7 linked regions of the Homo sapiens genome follow. The protein of the gene in region 3 purifies or fractionates together with the protein of the main gene of each other region. This does not show direct contact. Each region holds a gene or a part of one and is shown on either strand. Other genes may lie near its edges.

Evidence for each region.
Region 1: the proteins of GOLGA5 (region 3) and RPRD1A purify together in Homo sapiens (affinity purification with mass spectrometry, with the first as the bait; one large-scale study listed by BioGRID). This does not show direct contact.
Region 2: the proteins of GOLGA5 (region 3) and CCR9 purify together in Homo sapiens (co-immunoprecipitation; one large-scale study listed by IntAct). This does not show direct contact.
Region 4: the proteins of GOLGA5 (region 3) and PKN3 purify together in Homo sapiens (affinity purification with mass spectrometry, with the first as the bait; one large-scale study listed by BioGRID). This does not show direct contact.
Region 5: the proteins of GOLGA5 (region 3) and TRDN purify together in Homo sapiens (co-immunoprecipitation; one large-scale study listed by IntAct). This does not show direct contact.
Region 6: the proteins of GOLGA5 (region 3) and CLOCK purify together in Homo sapiens (affinity purification with mass spectrometry, with the first as the bait; one large-scale study listed by BioGRID). This does not show direct contact.
Region 7: the proteins of GOLGA5 (region 3) and BMAL1 purify together in Homo sapiens (affinity purification with mass spectrometry, with the first as the bait; one large-scale study listed by BioGRID). This does not show direct contact.

What each region holds. Positions count from the first base shown.
Region 1 is NC_000018.10:36,057,560-36,061,059, reverse strand, and holds part of RPRD1A (regulation of nuclear pre-mRNA domain-containing protein 1A), read left to right. Parts: intron 1-3,500. UniProt on the Homo sapiens protein: Interacts with phosphorylated C-terminal heptapeptide repeat domain (CTD) of the largest RNA polymerase II subunit POLR2A, and participates in dephosphorylation of the CTD by RPAP2.
Region 2 is NC_000003.12:45,893,043-45,896,542, reverse strand, and holds part of CCR9 (C-C chemokine receptor type 9), read right to left. Parts: intron 2,327-3,500; exon of another isoform or gene 2,242-2,326; intron 1,638-2,241; 5' UTR 1,610-1,637; coding exon 1,589-1,609; intron 1-1,588.
Region 3 is NC_000014.9:92,800,805-92,804,304, reverse strand, and holds part of GOLGA5 (golgin subfamily A member 5), read right to left. Parts: intron 1-3,500. UniProt on the Homo sapiens protein: Involved in maintaining Golgi structure. Stimulates the formation of Golgi stacks and ribbons. Involved in intra-Golgi retrograde transport.
Region 4 is NC_000009.12:128,705,503-128,709,002, forward strand, and holds part of PKN3 (serine/threonine-protein kinase N3), read left to right. Parts: coding exon 1-41; intron 42-231; coding exon 232-377; intron 378-1,210; coding exon 1,211-1,322; intron 1,323-1,393; coding exon 1,394-1,521; intron 1,522-1,719; coding exon 1,720-1,903; intron 1,904-3,500.
Region 5 is NC_000006.12:123,500,951-123,504,450, reverse strand, and holds part of TRDN (triadin), read left to right. Parts: intron 1-549; coding exon 550-732; coding exon of another isoform or gene 733-800; exon of another isoform or gene 801-2,623; intron 2,624-3,500. UniProt on the Homo sapiens protein: Contributes to the regulation of lumenal Ca2+ release via the sarcoplasmic reticulum calcium release channels RYR1 and RYR2, a key step in triggering skeletal and heart muscle contraction.
Region 6 is NC_000004.12:55,536,910-55,540,409, reverse strand, and holds part of CLOCK (circadian locomoter output cycles protein kaput), read left to right. Parts: intron 1-3,500. UniProt on the Homo sapiens protein: Transcriptional activator which forms a core component of the circadian clock.
Region 7 is NC_000011.10:13,371,790-13,375,289, reverse strand, and holds part of BMAL1 (basic helix-loop-helix ARNT-like protein 1), read right to left. Parts: intron 3,128-3,500; coding exon 2,881-3,127; intron 1,196-2,880; coding exon 1,089-1,195; intron 1-1,088. UniProt on the Homo sapiens protein: Transcriptional activator which forms a core component of the circadian clock.

The sequences.
Region 1 (3,500 bases), on a different chromosome or scaffold from region 3:
GAGGTGATACATAGCTTTGGATGCAAAGAGCCAAACCTGGAAATGGTCAGCCTTTGAATGCCTGTTAACTTTGTTTCCTAAATTTTTTTTTTTTTATGAGACAGTGTCTCACTATGTTGCCGAGGCTGCTCTTGAACTCTTGGGCTCAGGTGATCTTCCTGCCTCAGCCTCCCGAGTAGCTGGGACTACAGGTGCACACTACCATGCTGGGCTTATTTTTTCTAGGGTTGGCAACAATTAAAATAATACATTATTTAAGGTTTAGATTTTCCTCCTATTTGTAATCATTTGTTGAAATCATCACTTTTTCAATAAGCTATGTTAGATATCTTTCAGGGAACTAATTACCATTTTATATTGTATTATAGGTTGGGGGGTTACATATTGGTTGTGAAGTAGATAGTGGGCTCCTTCAGGTTGTTTACCTATTTCAATTTTTAGCTCCCCAGCATACTGCGTTTGATGAAAGTTTTTAAATATTCGTTGAATTAACATTCGTATTCACTAATACGGCTTAAACTTGTAAGATGTGCTAAAATAAGTACTGTATATTCTTGGCTGTTCTTATTAATTTGGTTTTAGAAAAATGGAGAAGTGAAAGAACATTTTTCTTTTTTATTTTTTTTGAGACAGAGTCTCGCTTTGTTGCCCAGGCTGGAGTGCAGTGGCGCGATCTCGGTTCACTGCAACCTCCACCTTCCCGGGTTCATGCCATTCTCCTGTCTCAGCCTCCCAAGTAGCTGGGACTATAGGCGCCCGCCACCATGCCTGGCTAATTTTTTTGTATTTTTAGTAGAGATGGGGGTTTTACCGTGTTAGTCAGGATGGTCTCGATCTCCTGACCTCGTGATCCGCCCACCTTGGCCTCCCAAAGTGCTGGGATTACAAGCGCGAGCCACCACACCCGGCCAAAAGAACATTTTTCATTTGCTTTAAAAATATATAGCAATATAAATCCTAAAAATGAAGAGAGTCTGTTTTAAATTGACAGTTCAGTGGCTTTTATATTGTCTGATACTGTTACTTGTTTCTCTTTCAGAGTTAGAATTGAAAAAGTAAGTAGACAATGCTAGCACCTTCTAAGTTCTTATATTTAAAAGGATTAATGTTGTCAAACTGACATGGTGACTCCCATGTAGTCATCTTGCAGCTTCAATAGTTATAGTCTTTCTTAACACTTAAAAAAACTTAATTTCTTAAGATATCAAATATTGAGCCAGTATTTATTTCCGTGATCATTTCACTTTTTTAGAAGCCATTTGTTTGAATCAGGATCCAAGTAAAGTTCATTTATTGCAATTGATTACTATGTAAATAAAGTTCCTTTACATCTATGGGTGCCATCTGTCTTTTATTTTAAATGTATTCTTTGAAAAAATCAAATTGGTTGTTCCAAAGAAATTCTTATTCTAGACCAGGAATTTCTCCTACTTTCTGGTTTGAGGATCTCTTTACTCTTAAAAATTGAAGATTCTAAATCTTTTGTTTATGTGGGTTATATCTACCGCTAGTTACTACATTGGAAATTAAAACACTTAAAAATTTATTTAATAATTATTTGTTTTAAAACTATAATACTAAATCGATTCATGTTAAATAATATTTTAAAAATTTTTAATTAAGGCCAGGTATGGTGGTGCATGCCTGTAATCCCAGCACTTTGGGAGACTGAGGCAGGCAGATCACATGAGGTCAGGAGTTTGAGACCAGCCTGGGCAACATGGCAAAACCATGTCAGTACTAAAAATTTAAAAATTAGCCAGACGTGGTGGTGCACATCTGTAATCCCAGCTACTTGGGAGGCTGAGGCACAAGAATCACTTGAACCCGGGAAGCGGAGGTTGCAGTGAGCTGAGATTACTCCAAGCCTGGGTGACAGACTGTATCTCAAAAAAAAAAAGATTTTTAAAATTACAAATGGACACATTGTAATTGTATGTATTTATGGGATACAGTTTGATGTTTTGATAGATGTATATGTTGGTCTAATGATCAAATAAGGGTAGTTAGTATCCATTACCTCATGCAATTATCGTAACATAACATTTTTAATGAAAACCAATTATATTTGCTAAAAAATACCAGGGAAAGGAGTGATTATTTTACATTTTTCCAGATCTTTATAAGATCTCTCTTAATAGAAGCCTGCTGAATTCTCGTGTCTTTTTCTGCATTCAGTCTTGCTGTATCACATGACCTCTGCAAAACAACACTGTACGCTTGTGAGAGAATGAGAGTGAAAAAAGGCAAATAATAGATGAGCATTCTTGTGAAAGTAGTTCTGACTTAATTGACCCCATGAAAGTGTCTTGACCCCCTGGAATCCACAGACTGTTGGCTGAGAAGTGGACCATTTTCTGAATATTGATAATTAGATCAAGAGACTAGGATACATTGCTTTGCCTTAAGCAGACATATCCCTCTAAAATATTAATTCCCCAGAAAAGCAGAAACTGAATTTATAAAATTTCCCTTTGGCCCGTAACGTAATTTTATTTAGGTTCTCTTTCCTGTGACGTTAAGGTTTTTTAAAAAAAGTTGTTGATTTGATGTTTTTACATCTGATTCAACAAATTATCTCTACATTTCTTATAAAAATAAAAGTGTGTTCCTACATTAAACAAACAATCTGTAATTTTACAGGCTTTTTTTCTTGATAAAATAAATTTTTCATTCAAAATGTACAAGTAGAAGTTTCTTCTGTTGGTTTTCTGGCCGGGCGCAGTGGCTCATGCCTGTAATCCCAGCCAGCACTTTGGGAGGCTGAGGCGGGTGGATTGTTTGAGGCCAGGAGTTTGAGACCAGCCTGGGTAACGTGGCAAAACCCTGTCTCTACTAAAAATACAAAAATTAACAGGGTGTGGTGGTGCATGACTGTAGTCCCAGCTACCCAGGAGGCTGAGGTAGGAGGATTGCTTGAGTCTGGAGGCAGAGGTTGCAATGAGCCATGATCTGACCAGTGCAGTCTGGCCTGGGCAACAGAGTGAGACCCTGTCACAAAAAATACAAGAAGTTTCTTCTATTAGGTTTCTTTATTCAAGAAATACTTGTTGACCTCCTTACTGTCTTAGTGAACAAGGATGATTGAGCAGATAAAGGGACATACAGCTGTGTTCATGGAGCTTACATATCAGCCAGGCAAATGGACTTTGCCAAACTAGTAACTGCACAGTAATACAAAGGAGAAATGTAATTGGGAACCTATCCTAGTTTATGGAATCAGGGAAGGGTCCTTTGGTTTAAGATTTGAAGTATATGTAGAATTTACTAGGAGCTGTACCAAGAATATAGACATAGGTTTTAGCTGTTGTAATCATTTGAATGTGGTGTTATGTAGAACAGCATTATTTGACTTTTCAAATTGAACATTTCTGTTCATAAGTCCTTTCTGGAGGTAGACAGGATAATACACATTTAGATAAACTTTTATTTATTTATTTATTTTTTTGAGACAGGGTCTTACTCTCTCACCCAGGCTAGAGTGCAGTGGCATGATCTCA
Region 2 (3,500 bases), on a different chromosome or scaffold from region 3:
GTCTCCTCATCTGTAAAAAGGACTCTGCCTTTACTGTGACGCTGAGGGAATGTGGGGCACCTGCATGGGTGACTGGCCCAGCACATCCTCAGAAAGGTGGCCACAGGGTGCCACGGCTACTTTCCATGGAATATGGGAGTCAGGGCCACAGGGGTCCCATCTTCTTCCCATTTAGATGGCGCCAGACTCCTCTGACAAGAGCAGGTCATTACTGAGGTGCAGTTTCCTTCTTATCTGGGGCTGCTTTGCAGAGTTGGCTATTATCCAAGATCCCAAATGATAAAAGCAAATGACTGGCAAGCTCAGAAGCAGCCCTGGCTCTGCTGCCTTCATCTACTTCTGTTTCCACAGCCTCAGGGATTGAAAGGTGAATTTAATGCAGGAGAAACTGAAGAGTCTACTTTTTGTCAGAATAATAGTTACTTCACCAGGACCAAATTAATTACTTTTTTGTTGTTATGGATATAGGTGCAATTAGGTAACTATACATATGTAATACTAATGAATCATTAGCATATCATAAATAATTTAGTTGATAAACTGTTTCAACCACCACTCTCCATAGATCATGGAAACCCACAATGTACTGTGAGGCAGTTTGTTAGCCCGCCTGCTAGGAAGTCTGGATTTCAATTATCTACATGTAAAACCCAGGCTTTCCCTTGGAGAAGAGCAAAATCAAAGCCCTTAGGTAATTTTATAAGGCATTTATGAATGTTACAAAAGCATGGGAAATTAATTTGATTCTACACTTAATTACATTCGGCTGTAAAAGAAAAAAAGATTCTCTGGATTATGATTTGACTCACTGATTTTTTTTTTTTTTTTTAAGACAGAGTCTCGCTCTGTTGCCCAGGCTGGAGTGCAATGGCGTGATCTTGGCTCACTGCAACCTCCACCTCCCAGGCTCAAGCGACTCTCGTGCCTCAGCCTCCCACGTAGCTGGGATTACATGCGCATGCCACCACACCTAGCTATTTTTGTATTTTTAGTAGAGATGGGGTTTTGCCATGTTGGGCAGGCTGGTCTTGAAATCCTGGCCTTGGCCAGGTGATCCGCCCGCCTCTGCCTCCCAAAGTGCTGGGATTACAGGCGTGAGCTACCACGCCCAGACTGACTCACTAATTTTTGCTCAGCTCTTGGTCTCTTTCAGGGGAATGTATACTGTTACGTGTTTTCATAAGGTCTACATAATGTTATGCAAGAAATACAACTAATGTGCCCACCATGGGTTTTTTAAAAGCAAATTACATGAATTCTCCCTTTGCCTCATTTGTCTGAGTTTTAGAACAGGCATATGGAACTAAGCACACCCTAGTTAAAGATGGTTAAAAATCCTTAGCTGTTTATAACACCACATTTTCCTCTGTCTCCACAACATACCCCAAAGCATAGCTGCCTCTTTGCATTTGCAAAACCCTCTGTGCTGGACAACAACCTACCCAGCAATGCGCATTGCCAGGCAGAGATCTTACCCTGGGAAACCACACAGATAAATCCTTCCCCCACAGTGGATCCTTCCCACACCCCCTAAAAAGGGAAGATGAGTGTGTGTTTTGAGGAGCCAGAGGAGCACGGCTGTACTCACTGTGAAGTCTGTGGGTGTCATGGTGGGTCAGTCAGATGCAAGCCTGCTCCTGGAAAAGGGACAAAAATCAAAAAGTGGACTGGCTTGTAAACGAATAGTAACAACCAAATGCCAAAAAGATGGAGATTAAATTTTAAATCTGCTTATTCTTCTGAAAAAAATATTCCAAGCAGGAGTTAGAGTCTATATAGTATTCTAGATTTCAGAATCATCTGAGTAGTCCACACAGAAATGAATGAACCTCTCCTTTGAAGTTATCATTCACTTCTTTGACTCTGAGGGTCACCTGATTCTAGCATTTGTTTTCTTTCTACTTAGACAATAATTAGTACATCTCCCATCCACAAATGAGGAATGGCAGGTGGGCTGTTACATTTTTCCCAGCTCATCCTTTCTACATTAGCTCCCTTTCCCTTGATTCAGCTTGTCTGTCAAGTCCTGTTTTGCTGACTGGTTCCCCTTCCCCCTGCTCTATCAGCTAAGGGACTCACCGAAGCTAACAGGACAGTGGTCGCTTTGAGAATGCCCTGGGCTCTGGACTCCCCAGGAAAAGGGCCTTTGAGTAACCAGGTGGCAAGAAGAACATGAGGGCTGGGTGGTGCCCACTGGGGTTGGGGCCCCTCCCTAAAAGACCCGGTGCCCCCAGAACCCACCTTTCTCCTCTTTACCCTGACTTCAGCAGGAAAAGGAAGTCCTAGGTTTGTGTACTGAAGAAAATGAGTTCTAGTTCCCTAATGCACAGGGCCTCGGAACTGACTGAAATAAATCTCGAGTTGTCATTTTCATGTGTTTTGAATTTCTTTAAAGCCCACCCCTACATAACCAAAGAAACAACAGCTTGACTGCCTTCGAGGACGAAGTCTGTGCCTGAGCTGGGGCATTTCCTTTTATACCCTTAGCGAGTACATTTCAAGGAAACCTGTCCAGCATCACACCCCAAGGTTCTCGAAAAAAATAGCCTCTTTCATAAATCCTATAAAGCCAACCTGTTGGCTTCCTTTCCATAACAACATCATGACCCCACCCTGCTTTTCTGAAAGTACAGTGGTTTCCAATGCATAATGTGTGGTAAAACCACTTTGGAAAACTGGCAGTTTCTTAAGACGTTATACATGCACTCACCATGTGATCCAGTCATCCCACTCCTAAGTATTCACCCAAGAAAATTGTAAGTATATGTCCCCATAAAGACTAGTATGTGAGTGTTTATTACAGCTTTACTCTGTGGTAGGCAAAAACTGCTAACAGCCTAAATGTCCATCAAGTAGTAAATGGATAAGTTAACTGTGAAATATCCGTCCAATGGAATAGGGAATGAATGACCGATTCACACAGCAACATGGACAAGTCTCCAAACAATTATGCCAAGTAGCCAGACCAAAGGGAGTTCATACTGTATGATTTCACTTGTATAAAACTCTAAATAATGCAAACTAATCTATACTGACGGAAAGCAGAATCACTGATGTCCTGGCAATAGAGAGAGAGAGAAGGGGAGGTGGCTGGGCATGGTGGCTTACGCCTATAATCCCAGCACTTTGGGAGGCCAAGGTGGGTAGATCACCTGAGGTTGGGAGTTCGAGACCAGTCTGGCCAACATGGTGAAACCCCATTTCTATAAAAATACAAAAAATTAGCCAGGTGTGGTGGTGTGCGCCTGTAGTCTCAGCTACTCAGGAGGCTGAGGCAGGAGGATCACTTGAACCTGGGAGGCAGAGGTTGCAGTGAGCCAAGATTGCACCACTGCACTCCAGCCTGGGTGACAGAGCAAGACTCCATCTCAAACAAAAAAAAAAAGAGAGAGAGAGAGAGGGAAGGGGAGTGTGGGAGGGCAGGAGGGCAGGTGGGTACAAAGGAAACCTCAGTGGGGGATAAATATGTTCACTGTCTGGGTTGTGTGAGAGCTTCGCAA
Region 3 (3,500 bases):
TGCCTGAGTCCAGGAGTTGGAGACCAGCCCGGGCAATACAGTGAGAACTCGTCTCTACAAAAAATTTTTAAATAATATAAAAAATAAAATATTAAAATTCAAAAAATAAATTAAGTATATATCCAAATGTGGGATGATATCTAAGGCAGTATTCTGAAGGAAATTTATAGCCTTGGTTACATTAAAGATGAAAGGCAGGAAGGAAGAAAACTAATGAGTTGTATATCCATCTTAAAAACTATAAAAACAGCAGAACAAACCCAAAGAAAGCAAAAATTAACAAAAGAGGAAATAAACATACTAGAGAGGATCAGCATAACCAAAAGTGGTTCCCTGGGACAGATATAAACAACATTAGGCCATCAAATTTTAAAATGTACAAGATACTGAAATCTATCAATTGCACAATACTTATCGTGCAGTTTATTGCATGTGAATTATACTTCATTAAAGCTGTTTTAAAAAGCAGGCATTTAGTGCAGTGCCAGAAACAGGGTAAGGATTCAATATATGCCAGATACTGATATTCTTCACACAGTATGCATGATCAAGCATTGGTTTTTGCAGGGTTGGTATGAATAACTAATGTTTGGTTGCGTTGAAAGTTTCAGCTGTGACCCCTACATTATTTTCCTGAAATTAAATAAGTATAACCCCTCAAAATGTGTATGACATTGACAAATTCTTGGGGAAAAAAACGTAACTTACCAAAAACAGATTCAAGAAGAAATGAAAAGCCAACTGAATCAATAGTTAAAACCTTTCAGTAAGAATACCCCAGGTCCTGATGGTTTTAGCACAGAGTTCTAGCAAACGTTCAGGAAATAAATAATCTCAGTCTTACACCAATTAATTAACACAACAGAAAAAGAAGGAATACTTTCCAATTCATTTGATAAGGCTAATATAACTGTAATACTAAAACCTAACAATATCGCAGGCCGATTTCGCTTATAAAATAAATGCAAAAGGTTAGGTGTGGTGGCTCATGCCTGTAATCCTAGCACTTGGGAGGCCAACACAGGAGGATCCCTTCAGCTCAGGAGTTCAAGACTAGCCTGGCAATATAGTGAGACCTTGTCTCTACAAAAAATGAACAAAATTACCTACGCATGGCGGTGTGTGCCTGCAGTCTCAGTTACTATTGAGGCTGAGGTGGGAGGATTGCTTGAGCCTGGGAGATTGAGGCTGCAGTGAGCTGAGATCCCACCACTGCACTCCAACCTGGGCGACAGAGTGAGATCCTGTCTCAAAATAATAAAAATAATAATAAATAAAAATTAAATTAACTAAATAAATGCAAAAATCCTAAAGGGAATATTAGCAAACTGAAAGTTAAGTTTGGTTTTATATTTAAAAGTATCAACTGGAGCTGGAGCTAGGTGCAGTGGTGTGCACCTGCATCCCAGTGAGTTGGGAGGAGGAAGTGGGAGGATTACTTGAGCCAGGAGTTTGGGGCTGCAGTGCACTATGATCATACATGTGAATAGCCGCTACATTCCAGCCTGGGTAACACAGCAAGATCCCATCTCTATTAAAAATAAATAAATAAATTGATTTATTAAAAATAAATAAATTGATTTGTATACTATATTAATATTAAAGAAGAAAAACTATATTATCTCCAAGGGTAGAGGAAAAAACATTGCTAAAATTCAACATGATAAAACCTCAAACTAGACATTTATGGGAACTTCCTTAAACAAATAAAAAAACTATAAAAAACCTAATGTAAAATCATACTTAGTGAAACAAAGTATTCCCTCTAAGACAAAGAACAAGATACAAAACTGGTCGTTGAGTCCTAGCCAATGAAGAAAAGGATTTTTTAAAAGATAAAAGGGCTAAGAAGAAACAAACTGTCATTATACACAGATAATTGTGTTGTTGAAAATCTAAATTTATGTCCAGAAAAACATGAAGATTAAGAGCCATCTAGATTGCTATGTATGTACACACAAAAAAACAACAAAAAATACACCAGCAATAACAAAGCAAAACATTTTAAGGAATACCACATATAATTGTTTCAAAAAATATAAACTACTTAGGAATAAATCTAACATAAAGTATATAAGATCTTTATGGAGAAAACAATAAAATTTTAATGAAAGACACTACAAAATATGTTGAAATTATATCCCATTGGTGGATAAGAAAACTCAGTATAGCAAAAGTGCTGACTCTCACCAAACTGTCTATATAGAAGCAATTAATTCCCAATAAAAAGACCAACAGAGTTTCTGTGAAACTTGATGAGCAAATCCTAAAATGCATACAGGAGTGGAAAGGTCCATGAACAGCCAAAACATTTCTGAAGAAAGACCACAAGGTGGAAGAAGCTACCCTATCAGTTATCAAGACACATAAAACTACATTAATTAAAACAGGGTGGCACTGGCACAAGGATACACAAATAAACCAATAAAACAGAATTAAGTGGCCAGAAACACACTAATGAATACTTGATATATAAGACAGGTGGTACTGCAAATTGGTAGGGACAAGAGACTCTGTTCAATAAATGATGCTAGAATAGCTGATTTCCCTATGGCAAAAAAAAAAAAAAGAAAAAGGGAATTGAATGCCTATCGCACACTATAGAAGACAATACAGAAAAATATCTTTATGATCTCAGTGTAAGGAAAGATTTTCCAAGACACAAAAAACACAAGCCACATGCCATCTACATTAAGAACTTCTATTCATTGAGATGCCATAGACAGAGGGGAGGGGAAAAACCAAGGTAAAACTGGAGGAGGAAAAGAATTTAGAATTTAGAATATATAAAGAATGTCTATGAATCAAGAAGAAAAAAGACAAATAATCTAACAGAAAAAAGTTGATAAAAAAGACTTGACACTTCCAGAAAATGAAAGTTCAATAGTCAAATATCTGAAAAGATCTTCAACCACACTAGTAATGAAGGAAATAATATCAACGACAAATCTGATCAGCAAAAAGTAAAAAGTCAAATTGAAAATAAAAAATGTTGGTGAAAATGTGGAGCAAAAGAAGTTCTTAACCATAGCTGGTTAGAGTATAAATTGGCACAACCTCTGCAGAAAGCCACTTTGGCATTACTAGTGTAGCTGAACATTGTTAAACCCTACAGCTCAGCAATCCCATTTCTACACATTTCTAGGCATCTCAGGACATTGGTTCTCAACTGGGATGATTTTGCCCTGCAAGGGACATTTGGCAATTTGTGGAGACATTGTTGGTTGTCACAATTGGGGGTGCTACTACCACCTAATGGGCTAAGAGGCCAGAGATGCTGCTAAACATCCTACAAAGAACAGGAGGGCTTCCCACACTATTGAATTAATTTGGCCCAAAACACCAAGTCTCAAGGTTGAGAGGTCCTACCCAAGAGAAACAATTTTTATAACTCCTGTGTATTATAACCAGTTCTAATTCATTTCCCTGACAACGAGGTTCCCTTTAGGTCCATTCTTTCTAATTAAATGCAAGCTGCTTTCTTTAAAAGTACAAAAATA
Region 4 (3,500 bases), on a different chromosome or scaffold from region 3:
CGCCCGAATCCTGCTGCCCGGCCCTGGGCCTGGCCCAGCTGGTGAGTGAGGAGCTGAGACCCCCTCAGGACAGAAGGCTCTAGGCCCATCTGGCCCCTGGCCTTGGCCCTGGCCACTGTGGCGAGACCACCTCATTTCCTGCCTATAGATCAGTAGGGGAAGGAGGAAAGGCCACAGTGGGGGTCTCGGCTCTGGGTGAGGGACTCCTGTGCTCGATACCCCCGTGCACAGAGCCTGTGGCCTCAGGACCCCGGCCGTGGGCAGAGCAGCTCAGGGCTCGGCACCTAGAGGCTCTCCGGAGGCAGCTGCATGTGGAGCTGAAGGTGAAGCAGGGGGCTGAGAACATGACCCACACGTGCGCCAGTGGCACCCCCAAGGTAAGGCCCCACAGTCTGATGGCAGGAGCACCCTGGCCCCTGGTCTGACAGGGAAATGCACCTCAGCCATTGGGCTCATAAGGAGACACCATTCCAGCCTGCAGCCTGATGGGGAAAATACAGCCCCAAACCCCAGCTGGGTGAGGAAGGCATGGCTGTAGTCTCTAGTGTGACAGAGAAGGCCTTGCCCTGGTCTAATGGGATCCTAGCCCAGCCCCAGTCCCAACTCCCAGCATGATGTCCAGAACTGGGCCTCAGTCCTTGTCTGACAAGAAGACTTGGCTGTGGCCCTGATATGATGACGGAGGCAGGACCTTAGCCTTGATCTAATGGGGGAGGCTTAGCTTAGCCCCTGCCCTGATCTGATGGGGGAGGCTTATCCCCAGCCCTGATCTGATGGGAGAGGCTTAGCTTAGCCCCTGCCCTCATCTAATGGGGGAGGCTTAGCTTAGCCCCTGCCCTGATCTGATGGGGGAAGCATCAACCCTGCTCTGATGGGGGAGGCATGACCACAGCCCTGATCTGATGGGGGAGAGTTAGCCCCAGCCCTGATCTGATGGGGGAGAGTTAGCCCCAGCCCTGATCTGATGGGAGAGGCATGACCCCAGCCGTGATATGAAAGAGGAAATTTGACCCCAGCCCTTGTTGGTCAGATGGAAAAGGCTCCCCTGACCCACCAACTAGTCCAACAAGGGAGGCTTGACTTTAGTGTTTGGCCTAGAGGTTTCACTTTAACCCTGTTTTGATGGGGGAGACCCGGCTCCAGTTCCTGGTCTGATGGGGGAAGCTGTGGCCCAGGCCTGGTCTGATGGGCCTGTGCTATGGCTCCATAGGAGAGGAAGCTCCTGGCAGCTGCCCAGCAGATGCTGCGGGACAGCCAGCTGAAGGTGGCCCTGCTGCGGATGAAGATCAGCAGCCTGGAGGCCAGTGGGTCCCCGGAGCCAGGTGAGGCCTTGAGACACAGGGAGGGCGGAGCAGGGAAGAGCAGGGCCTGAGAGCCGCCGTCCTTCCCACAGGGCCTGAGCTGCTGGCGGAGGAGCTACAGCATCGACTGCACGTTGAGGCAGCTGTGGCTGAGGGCGCCAAGAACGTGGTGAAACTGCTTAGTAGCCGGAGAACACAGGACCGCAAGGCACTGGCTGAGGTCAGGCCCCAGCCCTGGCCCTCTCCTAAGGCTGGCTTGTTCCCATACCACCCTCAGCAGGGGTGTGAAGGGAGGGTGGCCGTGTAAAAGCAGGACTTCTCTGTTGAGACTTCATGCGGAAGGTGGCTCCGGGTGACCTGGGCTGCTGCCCCCTGCCATATACCCCACGAACCTGGCTCTACGTTGTCCCCTCTGCAGGCCCAGGCCCAGCTACAGGAGTCCTCTCAGAAACTGGACCTCCTGCGCCTGGCCTTGGAGCAGCTGCTGGAGCAACTGCCTCCTGCCCACCCTTTGCGCAGCAGAGTGACCCGAGAGTTGCGGGCTGCGGTGCCTGGATACCCCCAGCCTTCAGGGACACCTGTGAAGCCCACCGCCCTAACAGGTAGTCAGAAGTTCCTCCCCCTTCAAAGCTCTCCTTCTTTTTGGGGGGAGGCCGGAAGCACAAACAACTCTGATGAAGAGTTCAAGAGTTCCAGTCCTGCCCCAGCACCCACTAGCAGCGTGACCTTGGCAAACTGACATTCCTTCTTCAAACCTCAGTTTATCCATCTGTAAAATGTGGATGATATAGCACCTACCTCATAGGGTTGCTGTGTTGCACGTGATGTGCTAAGCACAGTGCCTAGCACAGTCAGCACTCGGACAGCGTAGCTTGTATTTACATAAATAACCAGAATAATGCTTAAAGCACTGGTGTTAGGAAGCTCGCAGCCCTGGAAAGCTTGATACCCAGCACTGGGCAGCTTGGACTGTTAGAAAGTTTTCTAGGCTGGGCGTGGTGGCTCACGCTGGTAATTCCAGCACTTTGGGAGGCTGAGGTGGGTGGATCATGAGGTCAGGAGTTCCAAGACCAGCCTGGCCAAGATGGTGAAACCCTGTCTCTACTACAAATACAAAAATTAGCCGGGCGTGGTGGCGGGTGCCTGTAATCCTGGTTGCTCAGGAAGCTGAGGCAGAGAATTGATTGAACCCCGGAGGCGGAGGTTGCAGTGAGCCGAGATCACGCCACTGCACTCCACCCTGGGCGACGGGGCAAGACGCCGTCGCAAAAAAAAAAAAAAAAAAGGTTTTCTTGGGCCAGGCATGGTGGCTCATGCCTGTAATCCCAGCACTTTGGAAGACTGAGGTGGGCGGATCACCTGAGGTCAGGAGTTCAAGACCAGCCTGGCCAACATGGTGAAATCCTGTCTCTACTAAAAATACAAAAAAGTAGCTGGATGTGGTGGCACATGCCTGTAGTCCCAGCCACTCGGGAGGCTAAGGCAGGAGAATTGCTTGAACCCAGGAGGTGAGGTTGCAGTGAGCTGAGATTGCGCCGCTGCACTTCAGCCTAGGTAACAGGGCAAGACTCCATCTCAAAAAATAATAATAATAATTTCCTTGGAAAAAAAATAATAAAATTAAACTAAAATTGCTGGGTGCAGTGGCTCACACCTATAATCCTGGCACTTTGAGAGGCTGAGGTGGGAAGATTGCTTGAGCTCAGGAGTTTTTTTGAGACCCAGTCTCAAAAAAAAAAGAAAAAAAGAAAGTTTTCTTGGCTGGGCACAGTGGCTCAAGCCTGTAATTCCAGCACTTTGGGAGGCTGAGGTGGACGAATCATTTGAGCCCAGGATTTCTAGACGAGCCTGGGCAACATAGTGAAACCTCATCTTTAGAAACAAAAAAAATTAGCCGGGCGTGGTGGCGCATGCCTGTAATCCCATCTACTGGGGAGGCTGAGGCAAGAGAATTGCTTGAACCTGGGAGGCAGAGGTTGCAGTAAGCCAAGATTGCACTGTTGCACTCCAGCGTGGGTGACACAGCAAAACTCTTTCAAGAAAAAAAAAAAAAGAAAGAGTTTTCTGGTCTGGCTCAGTGGCTCATGTTTATAATCCTAGCAGTTTAGGAGGGTGAGGCATGTGGATCACTTGAGTCCAGGAGTTTGAAACCAGCCTGGGCAACATGACAAAGCTCCATCTCTACAAAAAATACAAAAA
Region 5 (3,500 bases), on a different chromosome or scaffold from region 3:
TTATTTCTGTTAGTCAACACCAATGCGATAATTTTACACTTGCATTACTAATTGTTGTCTTTAAAAAAGACTTTGTTGGCATTTCAGTTTCTTGAATGACCCTTAAGATCTTTCAGTTATCAAGCAAAATGATCATGTGCTTATAAAAGGAGACTACTTCACTGGGCTGTTTGGTATGGAAATTGTCTTTCACAGAAATTCCTGTACATCCATCCCCTGCATGCTACAAATGCCTCCTTGTTGACATGCTAAGTTACTATTGCCTTAAAAAATAGTGTTTTCATGTACAAATTAAAAGCCATAACACTTTTAGTAGTCTATCTAATATAGCACTTCATAAACTGTATAAAACTCTGGTAAGTCACAAGTGTTTATGTTAAGAACAGTATTTTTCATTGTTTTCCTGAAAAATACTGTTCTTAACATAAACACTTGTGACTTACCTTTCTTCCCTCTTTCTTTTCCAATTTTCCTTAATGACATAGTACAGATGAAACATTATGTTTGTAAATAAACAAAAGTATTTCAACATCTTTTAACTTTATACAGAACAGAAGAAAGCTAAGACTGCAGAAAAGAGTGAAGAAAAGACTAAAAAGGAAGTGAAAGGTGGAAAACAGGAGAAAGTGAAGCAAACAGCTGCAAAAGTAAAAGAAGTACAGAAAACACCATCAAAACCCAAAGAAAAGGAGGACAAAGAGAAAGCAGCTGTGTCAAAGCATGAACAGAAAGGTAAACATTCAGAGCAGGAGGCTGCCGGAGGTTCTAAGAGAATATTGGGCAAGAAGCACATGCAGTGAAATTAAAAGTTGAAAAAGACCAAAATCAGACTTCAAATGGGGGTAAAAGACATTAAAGTAAATATATCAGAAAAGAAATACAGTAAATTGGGAATTAATATTTATTTATAAAAATACTAAAATGTGTTCACAGATCTAAAGGGGCATTTTGAAGTATTTTTAAAAGGGGTTTGGAGGTAGCATCCGAAATCATATAAAGATTGGGGATAAATGTTGAATTTTTGAGATATGGAATGTCTATTAAGAGGTGGAATAAAGATTGTATGTGTCATACTCTTTGGAGGAAAGTGGTCCCCCAAAATGACAGCAATTCCTAAGGAGTTTGTGAAGGGGTACATGTTGGAATCATATAGAGTAAATATCATAAAAACTATCCATACATTACTGTTGCATTGGCAAGAGCACATCATTTAGAATATACATCCAATTATTAAATTTATTTAATAGGCAAGATGTTATAGAGAAGACAGTTCTCAAGTTTCTTTTTCAGTTTCCATTGACTAAATTTCTAACTTTAGAAAGCTCTGAATGTGACATATTTCGCCATTCTTCAGCAAGAGTGATGTCAAACTTACATCCCCACTTTGCAAAAATATATCACTTCAATGGAGGTGGCATATAAACCTGAATTTTTATTTTATGGAAGGTTGCTATGTGAATATACAGAGCTGAAGGTTTAGGAGGGCAACTAAGGGTCTTATCGTACCACATCTCTGGCCCTTATTGAATGTTTCTTTTCCTAAGTCCATTCCTGACTCCAGTTTGCTGTATAATCCTGAGACTCCTTTACAGAATACGGGGATCTAACATGTAGAGACTATTCCTGTAATTGGTGTTTCTTGGAGACATTGCAAAACCAAATTTTTCTTTACTTTGTAGCACTTTTGACTAATGTTATCTAAGGACTGTATCAAAGAATTGGTTTCTATTAGATTTTAGTTTAAGAAATCTTACAATTTTATTACAGAGCAGGCTATTTGGAGGATGAAACTGAAATTAATTTTTCCTCATAAGGCACAAGAAATGAAATTTGCAATGCACTCGTACTGTATTTTCATCTTTTTTCTCTTGAATTTGCATTTGTAAACTTTGATTCACATGTAGTATTTGTCAACTCTGATTTATATGACAAAAGATACATATTTTAAAAATATATATTTTAAAAAGGAAAGATTTTTTCTTTTTTTAGTGATCTACAAACCTTTAAATTTAGATAATTTTAATTTATTATTTTAAGATATAAGTCATATTAAAACTTAGGAGCTCTAAAACTTTTTCCAATTTTCAAGGTGATTATATCACCATGAAAAAAATTTAAAAGTTAATTATTACTTCCATCAAAATTATGTCATTAATGAAATATTTTGGTAGACAAAAAGGATGAAGTAAGTAAAGAGAAAATACGTTGAATATAATATTTTACTGTGGTAAAAAAACAGCAGAAATAATCTTTGGATTCACTGGTATGATTACTTAGATCCTGAAATCCTTTACACTTTAGATTGCTGTTCAAAAAGAAAAATAATCACATGAAATCAGTGAAAACCTACAAAGTACATTCTAATTTTTAACCATAAATACAGAGTGTAAAAATTGATGCCAGTTATATTTGGAAATGTCAAAATACTTATCTAACAACTAGGAATGTGAATGTATTTTTTGATGTTAATTTTTCATATCTTTGGGGATTTGGGAGCCACATTTTATTGATAAAAACTCATCACCGGAACACTTTAAAATAATGTTTATTTTCCAGGCCACAAATATTGTATTTCATTTCTATCAGTAATCAGATTTATTAAAGACAGCATTATATTACCATATCCCTTTTCAGTCTACTATTTTTATTTCTACACAAAGAGTTATTTATCTATTAAAAGGACATTCAAATATCATTTAGAGTTTAAAACAAAAGCACAAATGTGATTTTATCAGCTAAACAATTGCAATTGCTAAAGCAAGTCTCAGTATTGAGAACAATTGCCATCAATTATATAAATGTATCATTAGGTAAGTATTCAAAACTTAACCTCTAATGGCAGATCAGACATATAAATATGTCATTTTATTTTTCATTTTTTGTTACTAAGCAAAGATTTAATTAAGAGCATTTTTAAATTAAAGAAAACTAATTACATTATGATTTTAGCTAAGCAAGATAAAGATATAGTTTTTTTTAATTTCTGAGGCTTTGGTTTTGAAAATTTTATATGATGACTTAGTTGAGTTAGCTCAACTAAGCTAACTGTTGAGTTAGCTTTTTGGGCAAGAGAATACTCATTCACATAGTTAAGTTAGACCTAATATGTTTGAGGCATTCTTTTCATATAGATTTCTAAATACTTCTTTTTAAAGAAATAAGGCTCATAGGTCCTTTACTCACTTGGAAACAGATTTTCACATGGGACACATATTTATTAGTAATTATTTAATTACATAGTATACATATGAATATATTCAATGTAGTTACTCTCAATATTGTATATGGAAATAATACATCTCTTTTTCTGCTTAAAGCATTAGGGATAAGATGCATATGTATATACACACCTACCATAAACACACACACACACACAGACACACACACACACCCATCAAATAATCTAGTTTTTATGAACCCATCTAAATCTGTTTGTAGAGTAGGAAGAGTTGGCATAGTCAGACATTGCTCCCTAGTTTTCTGATGACCTCTAGGAGGTC
Region 6 (3,500 bases), on a different chromosome or scaffold from region 3:
CCTCCCCTCCCCTCCCCTCCTCTCCCCTCCTCTCTTGCCCCCAATTAAAAAATAGCACATCCCTAATGTGGGAAACAGTAAGAAAGCATAGATTACATTTTAGGCAGGGCACAGTGGCTCACACCTGTAATCCCAGCACTTTCGGAGGCTGAGGTGGGTGGATCACTTGAGGTCAGGAGTTTGAGACCAGCCTGGCCAACATGGTGAAACCCTGTCTCTACTAAAAGTACAAAAATTAGCCGGGCATGGTGGCGGGTGCCTGTAATCCCAGCTACTTGGGAGGCTAAGGCAGGAGAATTGCTTGAACCCAGGAGGCAGAGGTTGCAGTGAGCAGAGATCACGCCATTGCACTCCAGCCTGTGCGACAGATCAAGACTCAGTCTCAAAAAAAAAAAAAAAAAATTAATATCATTGGAGATCATACCACCGAAAGTGCTGTTGTTAATCTTCTTGATTATCTATCTGCTTCCTGCATTTTGTTGAGCCATTACATAAGTATATGTATACTTATATGATGTTATGGGCTCCTAATGTAGTCCACTGCAGTGCAAGCTGTTCAGTTAACAGTGAATCATCAACATATTTTCATGTCAGTATTTTTCTGCTATGTGATTATTTTTAGTAGGTATGTAACATTCTCATCTCTGTGTAATAATTTACTTATCAATCTTCTGTTGGACATTGAAGTTGTTTTCAATTTTTAGGATAATAATACTGTCACTTCCCTATATCATGCATTTTGATACTGGCCTACCTAGTATCAGTGATTTTTTCTATTTTTGTTTCTCTGAAAATATCTCAATTTCACCTTTTTTTTTTTTTTTTTTTTTTTTTTTTGAGACAAGGTCTCACTCTGGCACCCAGGCTGGAGTGTAGTGGTGTGAACATGGCTCACTGTAGCCTCAACCTTTTGGGCTCAGGCAATCCTTCACCTCAGCCTCCTCAGTAGCTGGAACCACAGGCACATGCCACCATGCCCAGCTAATTTTTAAATTTTTTGTATAGGCGGGGTCTTGTCATGTTGCCCCGGCTGTTCTTGAACTCCTGGGCTTAAGAGATCCCCCCACCTTGGCCTCCCAAAGTGCTGGGTATAGGTGTGAGCCACCATGCACGGCAGTTTCACCTTTTTTGAAGTGGTTTTTGGTGTTTTTTTTGTTGTTGTTGTTGTTGTTTTTTTGAGACAGTCTCGTTCTGTTGCTTAGGCTGGAGTGCAGTGGCGTGATCTGAGCTCACTGCAGCTTCTGCCTCCTGGGTTCAAATGATTCTCATGCCACAGCCTCCTGAGTAGCTGGGATTACAGGCATGTGCTACCATACCCAGCTAAATTTTTTGTATTTTTAGTAGAGATAGGATTTTGCCATGTTGGCCACGCAGGTCTCCAAACTCATGGCCTCAAGTGATCTGCCCACCTTGGCCTCCCAAAGTGCTAGGATTACAGGCATGAGCCACTGTGGCTGGCCTGAAGTGTGTTTTCACTGGCTATTAAGTTCTAAGTTGGTAGTTATTTTCTTTCAACACATTAAGAATGTTTGGTTGCTTTCTGTCTTCCTTTCTTTTTGTTGAAGTCAGCTACCAGTCTTATTGAAGGCAATGTATTAGCTATATTCTTGCTGAGGATAATGTGTCTTTTATTTTTCCTTGGCTAATTTTAAGACTCTCTGTGTTACTTTTAAAGCACTTTGATGTGTTCAGATGTGGTTTTCTTTGTTGCTTTATGTTTATAGAGTTTTTTGAATCTAGCTGGATGCCTTTTAGTTTTGGAAAGTTCTGTTACCACCTTTTCATATATTCTGCCCCTTTTTTCTTTTTGGATCCTAATTACACATATATTAAACTTAATTATCATGTTCCACATGTTGAAAAAAATTTTTTTCTCTGTTTGGATATTTTCTATCGACCTGCCTTCCAGTATGCCAAAACTATCTTCTCTTTTTGTCAAAATAATCTTTTGTGTTCTTAATTTTACATTGTGGTTTTGAGTTCTAGAGTATTCCTTTGATGTTGTTTTATAGACTTGTAATAGACTCCAGTTCTCTTGAACATACTAATTATAGTTATTTAAATGCTTGTCTTTTCCAATATCGGCATCATCTATTGGTCTGTTTATCTTGTTTGTTTTTCTGTTGGTTATTGGTCATATGGTTGTATTGTTCCGTCTCTTCACATGCCTGATAAGTTTTCGAAGGAACTTACCCATTTCATTTAACTTGTTGCATTTATTGCAAAAAGTTGCTTATAATACTCTATTATTGTTCTTTTAATATCTGTAGAAAGTGTAATGAGTCTAATATCTGTATAACCTGTAGAGATTTAGTATCATTCCGAATACTAGTAATTTGTCTCTGCTCCCCTTTTCCCTGATTAGTCTGGCTAGAAGTTTATTAATTTTATTGAGGTTCTTAAAAAGTTAACTTTTAGTTTAATTGACTGCCTGTGGTTTTCTTATTTCCGCCCTGGTCTTTATTTCCTTTCCTCAGCTTACTTTTGGGTTTAATTTGTTTTCTTTTTCTGGTTTCTTAAGATAGAAGCTGAGGTCATTGATTTGTGACCTTTTTTCTTTTCTAATGTAAGCATGCTATAAACTTCCCTTTAATTGTTTATAATTTATTTATTTGTTTTTTGAGACAAGGTCTCACTACTGCTCAGGCAGTACAGTATCGTGATCATGGCCCATTGCAGCCTTGACCTCTCAGGCTCAAGTGATCCTCCCACCTCAGCCTCCTGAGTAGCTGGGACTGCAGGCATGTGCCACCATGCCTGGCTAATTTTTTATTTTTATTTTTATTTTTTTGAGACTGGGTCTCACTCCGTTGCCTAGGCTTTAGTGCAGTGGCCCAATCACGGGGTCACCACAGTGTCGACGTCTCAGGCTCAAGAGATCCTCGCACCAGAGTCTATTAAGTGCTGGGATTACAGGCGCGTGCCATCATGCCTGGCTAATTTTTGTATTTTTTGTAGAGATAGGGTTTCACTATGTTGCCCAGGCTGGTCGTCAACTCCTGAGCTCAGGCAATCCACTTGCCTCAGCCTCCCAAAGTGCTAGGATTACAGGTGTAAGCCACCACACCTGGCCAGAGTTTATTACAATTTTTTCTGAAGACAAGGATGTCACTGTGTTGCCCATGTTGGTCTTGAACTCAGTTCAAGCAATCCTCTTTCCTTGGCCTCCTGGAGTGCTGGGATACAGATGTGAGCCTCCACTCCTGGCCGTTTCCAGTTTTTGATATGTTTCCATTTTCATTCCATTCAGAGTACTTTATAATTTCTTTCCTGATGTCTTACTGGGTCTATAGTTTATTTATAAGTGTGTTATATAGTTTTCAAATATTTGAGGATTTTCCAGAGATCATTGTTATTTTTAATTTAATTCCATTGTAATGAGATAATTTTAAATTTATTCGGATTTATTTTATGGCCTAGAATATATTCTATCATTGTAAGTGTTCTTCATGTGCAGTTGAAAAGAATGTGTGTTTTGTTGTTAGGTGGAGTGTTTTACA
Region 7 (3,500 bases), on a different chromosome or scaffold from region 3:
TGTCATGCTTTATCTCAATCACAAAGCCCAAGGGCAATATAGAACTTATCTCATTTCTAAGAACATCCAAATCAACAGAGGCTACTCACCTATTCAACCTCATTCTTTCATGTAACATGTAATGAGCCCTTCTCATGTGCCAGGCACTGGAGATACAAGAGGAGACAGGCTATGACTCCTGCCCTCAAGAAGAGTAGTGAGGGAAGGCTATACAGGGAGAAGAGATCAGAGCCTTGAGGGATGAACACGAGTTTGCCAAGAGAAGGAGGGAGGGAAGAACCCAGCAGTGCCTGAGGAGCAGCAGGGTCTGGTTGGGGAGAGGCCAGTGAGGTCAGTGTGCCTGGAGCACAGGCCTCTGCAGGCAGGGATGGGGACTGAAACTGAGGAGGTGGGCTGGGGCCAGAAGGTGGAAGGTCTCACATTTGATTGCCTGTCAAAAGCATTTGGGCTTGAGTCTAAAGCAGGAGGTTTTTAAGCAGGCTGATGTTACCAGGCTCAATCTATCTGGGGATAAATAGGATAACTATGGAAGATGAACTGGGGGTGAGAGGGATCAGAGAAACCCTGAGAAGTCTATCACAGGTCTCTAAGTAGGCACGAGGGCCTGAACCAGGGTGATGGCAGAGGTGGTAAAAAGTAGACTTTTGGAAATGCATGTCTGAGGTGAATGAACAGGATCTGGTGGAGACACAGTGAAAGAAGGGGTCAATGTTGGTCTCTCTCAGGAGCCTGCACATGAAGCCACAGCATTAGTCAAGACAGAAAACACAGGAGGTAGTGCAGGCTTGAATGGAAAAGAGAATCAGATCAGTCTGGGCCATACTAAATCTTTACAGGGTCTGGGAAAACCCTCTGAACAAGAGATGTCTTTCAGAAACTGCCATGCAGTCAGCACAGGGCAACTACAAGGGGGATAAACAGTGCCTGCAGGTATCAGCTTCCTCTTCACACAGATGTTCTGACCTGAAGAGTCCTAGGCTGGCTGACTCTACATCCTCAGTGGACAGATTTCCCTGGAAGGTCATGTTGACTAGTCTAGAAGCAAGGGGACACTTTCAACTTAAGATCTTTCATACATCCTAGCTTACCTTGCCTATGACATTCTGCAAGATGTCCTATGTCATCTTGGTGAAAATATTCATAACACGATGTGCCTAGAAGTTCTTGTGGTAAATATGCCAAAATAGCTGTTGCCCTAAAAGGGAATAAAGGAATATTTAAAGAAGAAAAAGCCATTCAGATGATTAATTGCAACTTTGCAATGGATAAACCCTGCTACAGCCTATGAGAGCAAGGTCAAAGCTGCAGGCAAAAGAGCTGGATGGATTTTCAGAGGGCTCACTGTGTGGATCTTTCTCTCTTTTTTTCAGGCATCTGAATTTAATCAAGGCTATAAAAATAGAGGGAAACAGAGCAAAGCCTTTGTAAAGGGACTATTATCACAAGAAATCAAATCTGAGGGGGCTTTAAAAATTGCAACCAGTCGGGCATGGTGGTTCATGCCTGTCATCCCAGCACTTTGGGAGGCCGAGTTGGGCAGATTGTCTGAGCTCAGGAATTCAAGATTAGCTTGGGCAACATGGTGAAACCCTGTCTTTACCAAAAACACAGAACAATGAGCTGGGTATGGTGGCACATGCCTATGGTCACAGCTACCTGGGAGGCTGAGGTGGGAGGACTGCTTGAGCCCGGGAGGTCAAGGCTACAGTAAGCCAAGATCTCGCCACTGCACTAGATCTAGCCTGGGTGACAGACTGAGATCTGTCTTTAAAAAAGGAACCACATTAATTAGATTAAAATGTGGTATAAATCTAAACCTCAGTGCAAGGCTTCTAGTTTTTGCTGCCTCCTTTTTATCAGGACAACCAAATGCCAGAAGCTGCAGCAGCTGAGGCCACAAGACAGCTGAGGCTGTCTCTTTTTCCAGCATGTTGTGGCTGTCTCTAGTAGCCAGAAAAATTATTAGCCTGTGCATATTCTGAGGGAAAGCAGTAGGCAGCAGTAAATTTGGGACACCTGGGTCCTTGGTCCAGGTCTATTACCAATTAATTGTGAATCCTACAGGAGACCAGTCCCCAGGCTGGCCTCTGTTCTTCATCCATAAAATAAGGAGGTTGGATTAGATCAACGCTGTCCAACAAGACTTTCTGTGATGATGGAAATGTTCTATGTCTGTGCCGTTAGCCACATGGGAGGCTACCATGGCCAACGAGTATTTTATTGGACAGCTCAGGACTAAATAATTGCTTCCAAGTCCTAGATTCAAAAGAATTTCAATCACAATAATGGTTCTGGAACATTCCATAGATTCAGACAGCATGCTATCCCTACTGTTTTTCTTTTAGCCATGGACATCAAGGCACCCCACTTAATTGTCTCTATATGCCAAAGAATGACAGAAAAATCTCTGTATTTATGATGATATCCTATTGAATCTCATTTTTTAACAGAGACTCTCATCATTTGTCTCTTTTTTTTTGAAACAGGGTCTCACTCTGTTGCCCAGGCGGAAGTGCAGTGGTGCAATCACAGCTCACTGCAGCCTTGACCTCCCGAGGCTCAGCTGATCCTCCTGCTTCAGCCTCCAGAGTAGATGGGACTACAGGTATGTGTCACCATGCCTGGCTAATTTTTGTATTTTTAGTTGAGACAGGGTTTTGCCACGTTGCCCAGGCTAGTCTCAAACTCCTGGGCTCAAGTGATCCACCCACCTTGGCCTCAAAAAGTGCTGGGATTTGAGGTGTGAGCCACTGCACCCAGCTTTTTCTTTCTTTCTTCATTCTTAGAAAAGCCAGCTGATGGCCCAGTCTTCTCTGCTTTTTAGATCAGGGTTGAAAATCCTCTACCATCATTGCTCAAGGGTAGTATGTAGACTCTTACCTCTGGTCTACAAAAACAAACTTTCCATCTATCGCGTGCCGAGAAACATATTCCATAGATTTCACCCTGATTTCCCCGTTCACTGGTTGTGGAACTACATGAGAATGCAGTCGTCCAATTGCGACGAGGCAGCTGAGGTTACACCCCTCATTGTCTGGTTCGTTGTCTTCATCCAGCCCCATCTTTGTGGGTGGCCAGCTTTTCAAATAGCCTGTGCTGTGGATTGTGCAGAAGCTTTTTCGATCTGCTAGAAAGCAAAGTTCGTGGTTAGTGTCAGCACTAGGTTTGGGCCATGGAGGTGTACACGGCCGATGGTGGGATGGGATGTAGGTAGGGAGTCAAAAAATAAAAAAAAATCAAGGCTTCACTCTCCAGAAGTAAGCATCTAATGAAAGGGGCAGACGGAAAGAGAAACAAACTGTCATCCAGTGTCAGAATGCTTAAGTAGGGCCAGTTATACCATGGACATTCATTACATACACCAAGGAAGGAATATCTAACTCTTCCTAGGGAGAGGAAGGCTCCCCCAAAAAACCAGTAGAGGAGGTGGATCAAGAAGGATGAGCAGTGGCTGAGGGACTAGAATGTATAAAGGCTGATGACGTACACAGGCACAGAGG